3 linked regions of the Homo sapiens genome follow. Changing the gene in region 1 together with any one later gene gives a genetic interaction. Each region holds a gene or a part of one and is shown in the gene's direction. Other genes may lie near its edges. The genes, in order: BRAF, HDAC2 and FGFR2.

Region 1 (3,657 bases):
AATGTTAACTACTCTGATAAAAAAGTTTTATAGTTTCCTACTTTTAAGCAAAATTCCATAGGGCCTGGTAATTGTAGTTTCAACATTACTTGCAGTTTCAGTTAGTAAATAAATATTAAGCCTAGTAAGTATAATTTAATATTGTCAAATAATTTGGAAAATACCATGGGTACTTAATTGATTTTACCAAATTTCCATGGAACAAACAAGGTTGGCTATTTTTTGGATTGATATTTTGAAATACTAGTACAGGAATATCATTGTTAGTTGAATTTTTAGCCTTAGAAAACAAATGGAGTTTAGATAGCTAAAGTATAATTTATTTGTGATTTAATAATGGTATGGAGTTAGGGCTATGATAATTAGTGAAAACACCCAAGAATGTTTTATACTTTTAAATTTTAAAAATTGAAATGACACTTGGAGTAACAATTGCCTTTTAGGTGATGTGGCAGTGAAAATGTTGAATGTGACAGCACCTACACCTCAGCAGTTACAAGCCTTCAAAAATGAAGTAGGAGTACTCAGGTGAGCTTGTGTGAATTACTCTTTTCCAGAGAAAGAAGTTATTTTTATTAGCTCCTGGTTCCCAGTGGTAGCAACTATTAGCTTTACAGATTTACTCAAAATGAATAAATTTGTAGAAACAGAGTATGTCTGAGTATATTTTTGTCTTTAACCACATTCTTTTAAGTAGTATGCAATGTTATATGGTATGGCTGATAGAATACTTAGTCCTAGACTGAATTAATGGAAGTATAGTATTCTGATAATATAAAGTAATAGTTCTACTTATGAAAAGAATACTCTCCAGTTTTAAGCTTATCAGAATACATTTAGAGGTGGTATTTAGTCCTGGGCTCTGGAATTTTAGAAACATTGACAAACTAGGATATGCCTAGTGAGGACCACCTAAATAGGGAAGATTCTAGAGGTGTAACGGGGGAAAATAATCAACAGAACTGAGGATATTTAGTTCACAGAAGGCTGTTATGTTCAAGAGAGTGCACAGTTATTCCAGAGTGCGGAAAAAAAAGTTATTCCAGAGAGCAGACCAGGGAAGCAAGCCAGAGGTGAAAGTTGTAAGAAAATGATTTTGTCTCAACACTTGGAAACTTTATAATACCAGAACCACTTAAATAAAGATATGAGAGTCAGCTACAACTGAGTGATGAACTTCCCATAGTTGAAGGTATTTAAGCAACCTCTAGTTGCCTGTCAGATATATTTAAAAAGATATCTCTGCATAAAGTAGGAGGTTAGACTTGGCAATTGCCAGTCTCTTCTAAATGTATCCTTTTGTTGCCTTTTTTAAAAAAAAAAAAGCTTTTTCTGACAACATTTTACCGACAGACTACTTTGGTTCTCTTTTGTAAGAATTGCTAAAGTTTGTCGACATTTAATGTTTACTGTCACATTTCTTTGTACAGGAAAACACGACATGTGAATATCCTACTCTTCATGGGCTATTCCACAAAGCCACAACTGGCTATTGTTACCCAGTGGTGTGAGGGCTCCAGCTTGTATCACCATCTCCATATCATTGAGACCAAATTTGAGATGATCAAACTTATAGATATTGCACGACAGACTGCACAGGGCATGGAGTAAGTTCCATTCGTTAAATGTCTTGTAAATTATTTTTGAAGACCATTGAGGATGTTTTAAAGGTTTTGGCTGCTATTCTTTTGGATTGCATTTTAAATTACTGTCCAGGAACATAAGGATGCTAACTAATGGCTGGTAAATAATATGATACTAAAAAATAAATGTCTCTGTCTAGTGCAGCCTTCAGAACATATATCAAGTATTTGATAATAAATACATGACTGCAAACTTAGGCTTAGCACTCAGTGATTGAGCTAAGCAAGAGAGGTTCAGAAGATAGAAACAGCAAAAACCTGCTAAAAAGTTGTTAGCAGTTGTGCAAGTAAACAGAATGGTTGTTAGTTACTTTTTCAAATCAGTTTCTCTGAGTGCCCGTATTTTTGGTTGCAAAATGGTCAGTTAATAAAGTTAAAGTGAAAAATCTGCATTCTGACCCTTTTTGAGGATTTCAGAGTGAGTTCCTATCTGTTGAATTTTGCTATGCAATTTAAGGAGTTATTTTATAAAGTTTACCATAAGCTAATATGGGGAACTGACTTTGAAGGATAAATTTTAAATTTTGCAACTCTTAAGTGCAAATGAATAGGTAAATTAAAAGGTAAAATTAAACAAATTTTGAAAGCACTTAGGTGAAAATTATAAACTCAGTAAAATATGAATTTGAAAGCTCTGTGAGAAGTTTAAAAATAGATATGATCTGAATTTTGTTTTTTACAAATTGCTTTCACTTACATAGATTATTATGTCATTTAATCTTTATAATGTTATGAAGGAGATCTTTTTTCTTTTTACAGATAAGGAAATTGAGGCTTTTAAGTTCCTTGTCTAAGGGCACACATTTAATAAGTGGCACCAAAGGTGTTTAACTCAGGATTTCTGACTCCCAATCCAGTATTCTTTCCCCATAACCACTATGCTACTTTTACATTACAAAATTAGAATAAAAGAGTAAAAGGGTATATATGTACTAACACCTACAACTCTAACTGAGTATTGCTCCTAGCAAGTAAGTATAGAGCCAAGACTCTAAACCAGATCTGGCTCTTAGATCTTCCAACTATACCACCTTCTCTTTCTCAAAACTAGGCAATATATCTATAATTTAGATTGTTTACAAGCCTATATTCGGCCAAAATACTTATTACAGCAAATTATTACCTTATTCAGTAACACCCCCACTTACCCCTAGACTTGAAACAATCTCAACGTTTCAGATAAGTTAGAATCTCTGAATCTGTTCGAATCTAAAGGCTTTTAAAGAATTAAAATCTTGGCCAGGCACAGTGGCTCACACTTGTAATCCCAGAACTATGGGAGGCCGAGGCAGGCGGATCACCTGAGGTCGGGAGTTCAAGACTAGCCTGACCAACATGGAGAAACCCCGTCTCTACTAAAAATACAAAATGAGCCAGGCACAAGCCTGTAATCCCAGCTACTTGGGAGGCTAAGGCAGAAGAATCACTTGAACCCGGGAGGCAGAGGTTGCAGTGGGCCAAGATCACACCATTGCACTCCAGCCTGGGCAACAAGAGCAAAATTCCGTCTCAAAAAAAAAAAAAAAGAATTAAAATCTTGTGAAGAGTAAACCATGGCAAAGATTGTGAACATTCAGTGAGAAACAAAGGCTTATTCTCTTCCCACACCACTGGTCTCTTTGCAATTTCTTCAGCAGGCCAAGCGTGTTCCTTCTTTAGGACCTTTATGTTTGTTATATTCTCTTTAGGATACACATGCCACAAATATCCTTGTGTCTCGGTTCATATGTCCCCTTTTAATAGAAATCCTTGCTCACCTTATATAACTAACATGTCCCCACGTCACTCTGTCACTCTCTATACCCATAGGCTTGATTTTCTTTATAACGCATAGCTCCATCTGACTTGTTTCTTGTCTTTTATCCCCACTAGAATGCAGGCTGTATGAGAGCAGGGGCTTTTTTTCATTATTTTATGCCTAATGCCTAGAATGGGACCTGGCATACTCAGTACATAACTGTTAAATGAAAATGATTACACACAACTGCATATTATTGATAGATTTACCTTTCAG
Region 2 (3,657 bases), on another chromosome or scaffold:
TCAAATTTTAAAATCATTAGGCATGTTACCCTTTACGTTTAAATGTGGTAACTAACTGCTTAGTGCATTTGTATGAGTATGCTGTAATGATTATAAAACCTGTGACTGTTTTTGTCAAAATTTATTAAAATATTCTGTGCAGTTCGAGCATCAGACAAGCGGATAGCTTGTGATGAAGAATTCTCAGATTCTGAGGATGAAGGAGAAGGAGGTCGAAGAAATGTGGCTGATCATAAGAAAGGAGCAAAGAAAGCTAGAATTGAAGAAGATAAGAAAGAAACAGAGGACAAAAAAACAGGTCAGATTTGTTTCTTGGTAATTGTGTTTTAATTGTAAATTTTAAAAATTGGGCTGCATTATAATGTTTATGCTATCGAGAAGTCAGTTGCACAGGTATCAGGAGGAAGTATGCTAGGTAGGTGACTCTTTTTTCTTACATATAAGTGGTACTTAGCTCTTAAAGCTTTTATATAAATGTTATTGTTCCTATTTGCTTTAGTAATACAGGAAACCTTATTTTCTTGATAACATAGGTTTAAAATAGTGAACATTGCATTGTGATATAGATTGGTTAAGAAAGAGGACAAAGTAATTATGAATCTATTGGTAGTGCATGGTCAGAACTGAACTTCTAAGGTAATTTTTAGCTACCTAAAGCTTATTTAATGGGAGAAAACACAAAGAAGAGTTACATATCCTTAGACCAGTTTTGCCATTTTGAAAAAGGTCAAATAATGGATTTTGTTCAGAAATTGAAGAAAACATTAAAAACTCTGAGGAAAGCTAGGAGGGGATTTGGGACCTGGGTTAGGGAGGAAAAAATACTTTGATACATTGCCTTACTTTAAAACGCTGTGTTAGCTTTAGGCAATTGAATTTGCTACCGGAATCTGTTACCTTTCATCTGACTTCCCAGAACACTTACACATGCCTCTGCCATTTTATTTAACACATCATATTATAGCACCTCACAGGATTTTGTCTCCCTACTAGACTGAGCTGCTCATGGCTAGGGAACACAGTATCTTAAATATTTGTATTCTCAGCACTTGATGCATTTCCTAATGCAAGTAATGGTGATGAGCACACGTTTTAGTTAACCTGTTAATTTTGATCCTGTAGTATGTGAAAAACTGATTTAGAGATAATGATCCAATTTTTCCTATGTCTATCAAATTGAAGTTATGTGAATAAGCCAGCTTTTTTTTTTTTTTTTAAACTAGAGAGTTAGTAATCTATAACATCTGACACATTTAGTTCTGTTCTTTTACTTGTGGATTCACTCCTCAATAGGCTACATACAGAAATTTATAATTTTAACTTCCCAATGTATTACAATGATGGCTTCAGTCTATATTTGTAACTGATTGACATCCAAAAATTCAAGCCATGACTGAATTAAGGACGACTTAACTTTAGCTGTAGGATTTTCCTAACTTTTTTTCTTTTCTTTCATTTTCACTATGTTTTCTTGTCTGTCTGTTTTTGGTGTTCTCATTTTTAAAAGCTTTATCTTTTCTGTGCTTAAAAAATAAACTCTCTATTTGGTGATGAGGCTCTTTCGATAGGGCCTTGCAGTTGTTAAAATTCTTCAGCCTACTGAAAAATGAAATACTACCACAGAAAGCTTTTTTTAAATCTATAGGTCAAAACCTAGAGTTAGGGCCACCTTTTCTCCCTCTGCACCCCAATCCAGTGACTATTCATAGCTTGTACTGCCATCGTTTAGGAAACACCCAACACAAAGCTTATTTAGACCGAATTCATTAATAATAAGATTGCATAACTTTTTATATTTTAAAAATAAAGTATATTTTGAAATAATATATATACATTTTATATTTCAAAATAGGTTTTAATCTTTTCCCAATCTTTATTTTTAGACGTTAAGGAAGAAGATAAATCCAAGGACAACAGTGGTGAAAAAACAGATACCAAAGGGTAAATGATGTTCCTTATCAAGTACTTTTTACATACTATAAAAATACTAAACATGTTTATTGGTGTGTGTTTGTGTACACACTTCAGAAATACTAGACTGAACCTTAGAACATCATTATGAGGTGCTCTGAATTTTAGTTTGTATTGGTACATAAGACAACATATGCCATCTTACCTATTGGTTTATCAGTATAACTATATCAGTCAGTTTGTATTCTTGTACGTAGTTTATCTGAGACCCTTTTTTGCTGTTATCTTTTATATATGCACTTAATGGTTTTCATGGTGTTCTTATTTCTGTGTACATGATTTTTTTAGTGTTGTGAGATAGGTAAATTTAAGAAACAATTTTAAGTAAAAACAGTTGAGGATTTTAGTGTCAGAAAGCATGTAAATGTTTGGGCACACATAATTTTGTGCCAGCCTTTACAGGATAACTTGGAATAGTTTATTAAATCACTAGAAAAATTAAGGCATTAATTACTCCAGAAACACTTAAGACATTATCAATTAATGTGTTTCTTAGCATGAGCCTACAGGACCTGATCAATATAATAGGTCAGTGCATTTAAACCAAGATTGTGCCATTTTTAATATTTCACATTGCCTCTTTTAACAGAACCAAATCAGAACAGCTCAGCAACCCCTGAATTTGACAGTCTCACCAATTTCAGAAAATCATTAAAAAGAAAATATTGAAAGGAAAATGTTTTCTTTTTGAAGACTTCTGGCTTCATTTTATACTACTTTGGCATGGACTGTATTTATTTTCAAATGGCTTTTTCGTTTTTGTTTTTCTTGGCAAGTTTTATTGTGAGTTTTTCTAATTATGAAGCAAAATTTCTTTTCTCCACCATGCTTTATGTGATAGTATTTAAAATTGATGTGAGTTATTATGTCAAAAAAACTGATCTATTAAAGAAGTAATTGGCCTTTCTGAGCTGATTTTTCCATCTTTTGTAATTATCTTTATTAAAAAATTGTACTTGGATTATCTTTTGTCTGTTTATTACTACAATATGAAGTCTTGTTTCAGTGGCTAATGACATCATTTCTGTAGACTTACAATACACTCTAGGTGAAAGATAATGATTACAGCTTGAAAGATAACTATTTGCTGTTTCTTTGGGAAGAGTATTTATAGTAATTATTACTTATCTTTGCAATAGAAATTCTACCACCTTGCCCTCTATAGCTTAGCCAGTTAGTATCAGTGAAGATTAACATCCCATTACAATTTATGAAATAATACAGACTCTGCAATTGAGATGTAGGAGTTCTTTGAGTTGACCCAAAGATTCTCAAAATTGAAATGGAAATTCTGAATTGAAAGAAGAAACTGACCAGAACTTGTATTGACCAGACTTGCCTATAGTATATTGCTGGTTTAAAATGGAACCTGCAGACAAAACCTGTTTCTTTTACTGCATTTACATGGCATCCAGGTTCCATTATTATTTACGTGACATCCAGGTTTCTAACTCAAGGAAATAAACACAACTGATTTATCATTCAGCAACTACTTATTGTGTGTCTGCCCATTTTAAGACTGTAGGAGTGTAACTGAATATAATGGAAAAATGCTTTCACTCAGAGCTTACACTCAGAGCTTACATTCTAGTAGCAGGAAGCAGACAAATGGGGGTAACTCCTGCTACTAAGATGTGCAAAGAAGACAAAACATTTTAGGAACTTGCCAAAATCAGTGAAATCTCC
Region 3 (3,657 bases), on another chromosome or scaffold:
CCCATTTCCACTGAATAGCCTGGCCATCAATAAGTTTCCAGAAGGACTGGGGAGAAACAAAGAATGGCCCCCAATGCTGGGGTCTGGGGTTATTTTGAGTTAAAGGGACTCGGAGCTACTGAATGTCTTCCACATTCAAGTCCTAGAACTCTTTCCTTGAGATATTCCACTTTACATTTCCAAAGACAGAGGAAATATGGTAGAGCCAATTTCCTAAAAGTTTTCGTAGAATTTCATAAGCACAGCATTGATCCATGATCCGGGTGGTCTGAGAGGGGATCCATTATCCAGGGCTCCAGTACAGGTGCAGGTACAACCATAAAGGCACTAATGAAGCCAGAGAGGACTGTCTGCATGTCCTCAAGTGACTCTCTGGAGGAATTAGGACAGAAAGAAAATTTACATTGTGATCAGATGGTATAGAAAAATTTCATAGAAAAACCTGAACATAGGAACATAAAATTTGGATGAAATCTGGTACTGCATGGACTGGAGGGCAGAGGAGTTAGATTCCAGTGGTTTTCTAATTTGGTTTCTGACTTCTGCCAGCCCCCAACCCATTCCTTTCTAAGATTCGATACTCTGGCTGGGCTCTGGCTGACTTCCAGCCTTCTCAGATGGAGCCAGGATTACATCTGTGTCTTTGCATTTTGTATCCAGGTTTCGGCTGAGTCCAGCTCCTCCATGAACTCCAACACCCCGCTGGTGAGGATAACAACACGCCTCTCTTCAACGGCAGACACCCCCATGCTGGCAGGGGTCTCCGAGTATGAACTTCCAGAGGACCCAAAATGGGAGTTTCCAAGAGATAAGTGAGTACTTCTCTTGGCCATGTCCCAGGATGGAGACTCAGCTATAAATGGGGATATTGGATTAACATTTTCTTTTTATGACCCTTAGCCACAAAGGTCTTGGTGTGATGATGTCAGCAGGAGTAAGATTGTATTTCTAAATAACCAACTCCTGGAAAAGAAAAAAATGGATTTAAAAAAAAAAATAACTCCTTGAAAGCAGAGCTACTTGCCCCTGGCTGGTCCCCAAAGAAGATGGCATCTGGTTATCATTTTTTAAGTGTCTGGGCAATTCAGACTCCGTCAAATGGAATAAAAGTAGAATTATCCAATTTATAAAACAGATCTGACATTCTAGCTTTTGGTTACTAGAACAAGACTGTTCTCTGTTCACTTCTGTGGAGAAATTAGATGCAGAATATAAATGGCCTTAAGGACCGCTACCCAGTGTTGCTGTTCTCATTGGTTATTAATGTCATATTGGGCTGAAAAGCTTCAAATATGGTACCTGACATCTAATTTCTGTGATCCATAATATTTTCCTTGTTGGATGATACAGAGGTGTGCCAATCAGATGTTTAGTCAAAATATGGCCACCTGGGTGGTGTTGGGGCTACGTATCTCTTGGTCTCGCTTGAACTCCACGTACTGGAGCTCCGTTGGGCTGCATTTGAATCCTGGCTTTGCCAGACAGTGGCTGGGCAACCTCGGGTGAGGCACCTGATTCTCTGAAATTCATTCTCATAAAATGAGGGTGGTGGTTCAGACCTCCCAGGACTGAGCAGAGTTCTTGGCTTGTGCGAGTTTTCCTTTCATTTCCCTTCACGTGGTGGTAACCTGGGAGCTCTGAACTGCAAACCTCAGCAGGATCATCGTGTGGGGCATGGAGTCAGTGGGCAGAATTTGAGCTCCTAGCCCTCGTCCTCTAGGCAGGGACCGACCCCTAGATCCTCCTTATGAAAGGAAGTGCAGTGGTCATTGTAGGGCTGTCCACTCACTTCTGGGGTACTTTTTGTCGTCACAGCTTGAGAGTACGGGAAGGTGGAAATGCTGACTACTTCTGCATCACATACACTGGAATAAGCTCTTGACTTGCTTATAAGCAGCTACCCTGTTTGCCTTGACATTTTCAGTAGCTCCTCAGATTATATACACTTCTCATGTGTACCTATACACATTTGGAAATGCAAAGATAAGCTCTTCCAGAGACTGATCTGATGAGCTCTATTTGGAAGGGAGAGGTAGCTTATGTGGCTGGCACTTCTGATTTTGATTCACGTGATGTCACATCAGTTTTGTTTCCCAAGTGCCAATTTAGAGATGTGTACCGTTAGCTAGGACTGAATAATTGTATGGATATTATTTGGTTAGAGTGTTAATGGAAGTAATTTCCAGTTGATTTGTATACTGTAGTGAAAAGACCACTCACTCATTCACTTATTCATTCACTCAAGGCATGTTAATTGGACATTTACTGGTGGGGCACCAGAGAAAACACAAAGAATGGTTTCTTTACCTGTAGGATGTGGAGAAATGGATGTTTCTTGTGAACTCCGCCAGCCCTAGTTTGTGTGTGATTATATACACAGATAGGTTCATGTGCACATTCCTATATATATAACTGAACTGGGGAGTTGTGATCATATTTTAAGAAATTGCAGCTTTCGGGTTTAGTCCATAGTTTTTGCCACCTGTGACACCACAGTCAACAGTGGAAGTCTGTATGTGCCCAACTGTTACCTCCCACCCGGGGTACCCTGAGTGTGGAAAATCTGAGTGCTAAACATTTCAAAACAGTGTTTAGCGCAAACGTAGGTGGAACAGATTTCCAATGAATGAAGGCTATTTAGAAGCAGTTTATTAGATCGGAGGCAGAAGTTATACAAAGAAAGGATTGTTATGCTTGTAGTAGCAAGGCGGTGGGACATAAATTAGCCATTTTTCCAATGCAAATATTTATTTTCTGCCAAGATGTTAAATTTAATTTTCGTTCTGGGTAGAAACAAAATGACCTCAGCATAGCACATGCTGCCCTTAGTCTTTATGCTGCACTTTTGCAAACTATTGTGTACTTACCTTAAATACTGTTTACTAATGGCAGCTCCATGCTTTGCTGTGTTATGCTTAAGTTAGAAAGAGCCGTATTCATAAGTATTCCAAAGACTTTTGCGTTTTGTTGGTTTCTGGAATGCACAAGGACAATATATGGCTATTCGTCCGATGTGCATAGACCTTGTAATCTTAGAAATTTAATTTGTGGTGTTCACTTTGGATTTTCTTCATTGTTAATTTTATGTAGTCATAAGGACTTTTAAACTTATGTCAAAAAAAAAGTCCCCAATTTTTTAGAATTTTCTTTTTAGTAAAAAATTAGAGATTCCTTGAAATGCTTTTAAGAGGCATATCCTGTAACTTGGCAAGGAATGTGACCATAAAATCCATTGGTATTTGAATAATAATTTTAAAGCCACCATTTTACAGGGACAAAAAAATAAGAACAGTCTTAACGTTTTTTCTTTGAGCCATTCTAAATTACAAATATTTAATTGGCTCAAGATCAAAAGCTCTTCTCTGGCACTTAGGAAAGCTGACCACCGCACTAGCAAGGATACCTTCCCTAAAGAAAATAAACCGAGAATACCAATGTGAAATTTAATAGCCGTTCCACCAGTAATTGACATTCTCTAAAACGTCACTAGGAAAATACTCAGGCGCGTGTGTACCCTAAGTCTCATTAGTTCCATATGATAAGCACTCCATGCTTTAGTAAGCCGCTGAAAGATTTTTATATTTAGTTCTGGAATTTCCCTCACTACACCCCATCACCAGATGCTATGTGCTAATCCCCTATTTACACATTTAGGCT

The links.
Region 2: changes in BRAF (region 1) and HDAC2 together harm fitness more than expected from each alone (negative genetic interaction), as found in Homo sapiens cells (one large-scale study listed by BioGRID).
Region 3: changes in BRAF (region 1) and FGFR2 together harm fitness more than expected from each alone (negative genetic interaction), as found in Homo sapiens cells (one large-scale study listed by BioGRID).

The regions. Positions count from the first base shown.
Region 1 is NC_000007.14:140,774,862-140,778,518, reverse strand, and holds part of BRAF (serine/threonine-protein kinase B-raf), read left to right. Parts: intron 1-443; coding exon 444-528; intron 529-1,430; coding exon 1,431-1,607; intron 1,608-3,657. UniProt on the Homo sapiens protein: Protein kinase involved in the transduction of mitogenic signals from the cell membrane to the nucleus. Phosphorylates MAP2K1, and thereby activates the MAP kinase signal transduction pathway. Phosphorylates PFKFB2.
Region 2 is NC_000006.12:113,939,992-113,943,648, reverse strand, and holds part of HDAC2 (histone deacetylase 2), read left to right. Parts: intron 1-142; coding exon 143-298; intron 299-1,883; coding exon 1,884-1,941; intron 1,942-2,560; coding exon 2,561-2,591; 3' UTR 2,592-3,657. UniProt on the Homo sapiens protein: Histone deacetylase that catalyzes the deacetylation of lysine residues on the N-terminal part of the core histones (H2A, H2B, H3 and H4).
Region 3 is NC_000010.11:121,500,945-121,504,601, reverse strand, and holds part of FGFR2 (fibroblast growth factor receptor 2 isoform 1 precursor), read left to right. Parts: intron 1-660; coding exon 661-812; intron 813-3,654; coding exon 3,655-3,657. UniProt on the Homo sapiens protein: Tyrosine-protein kinase that acts as a cell-surface receptor for fibroblast growth factors and plays an essential role in the regulation of cell proliferation, differentiation, migration and apoptosis, and in the regulation of embryonic development.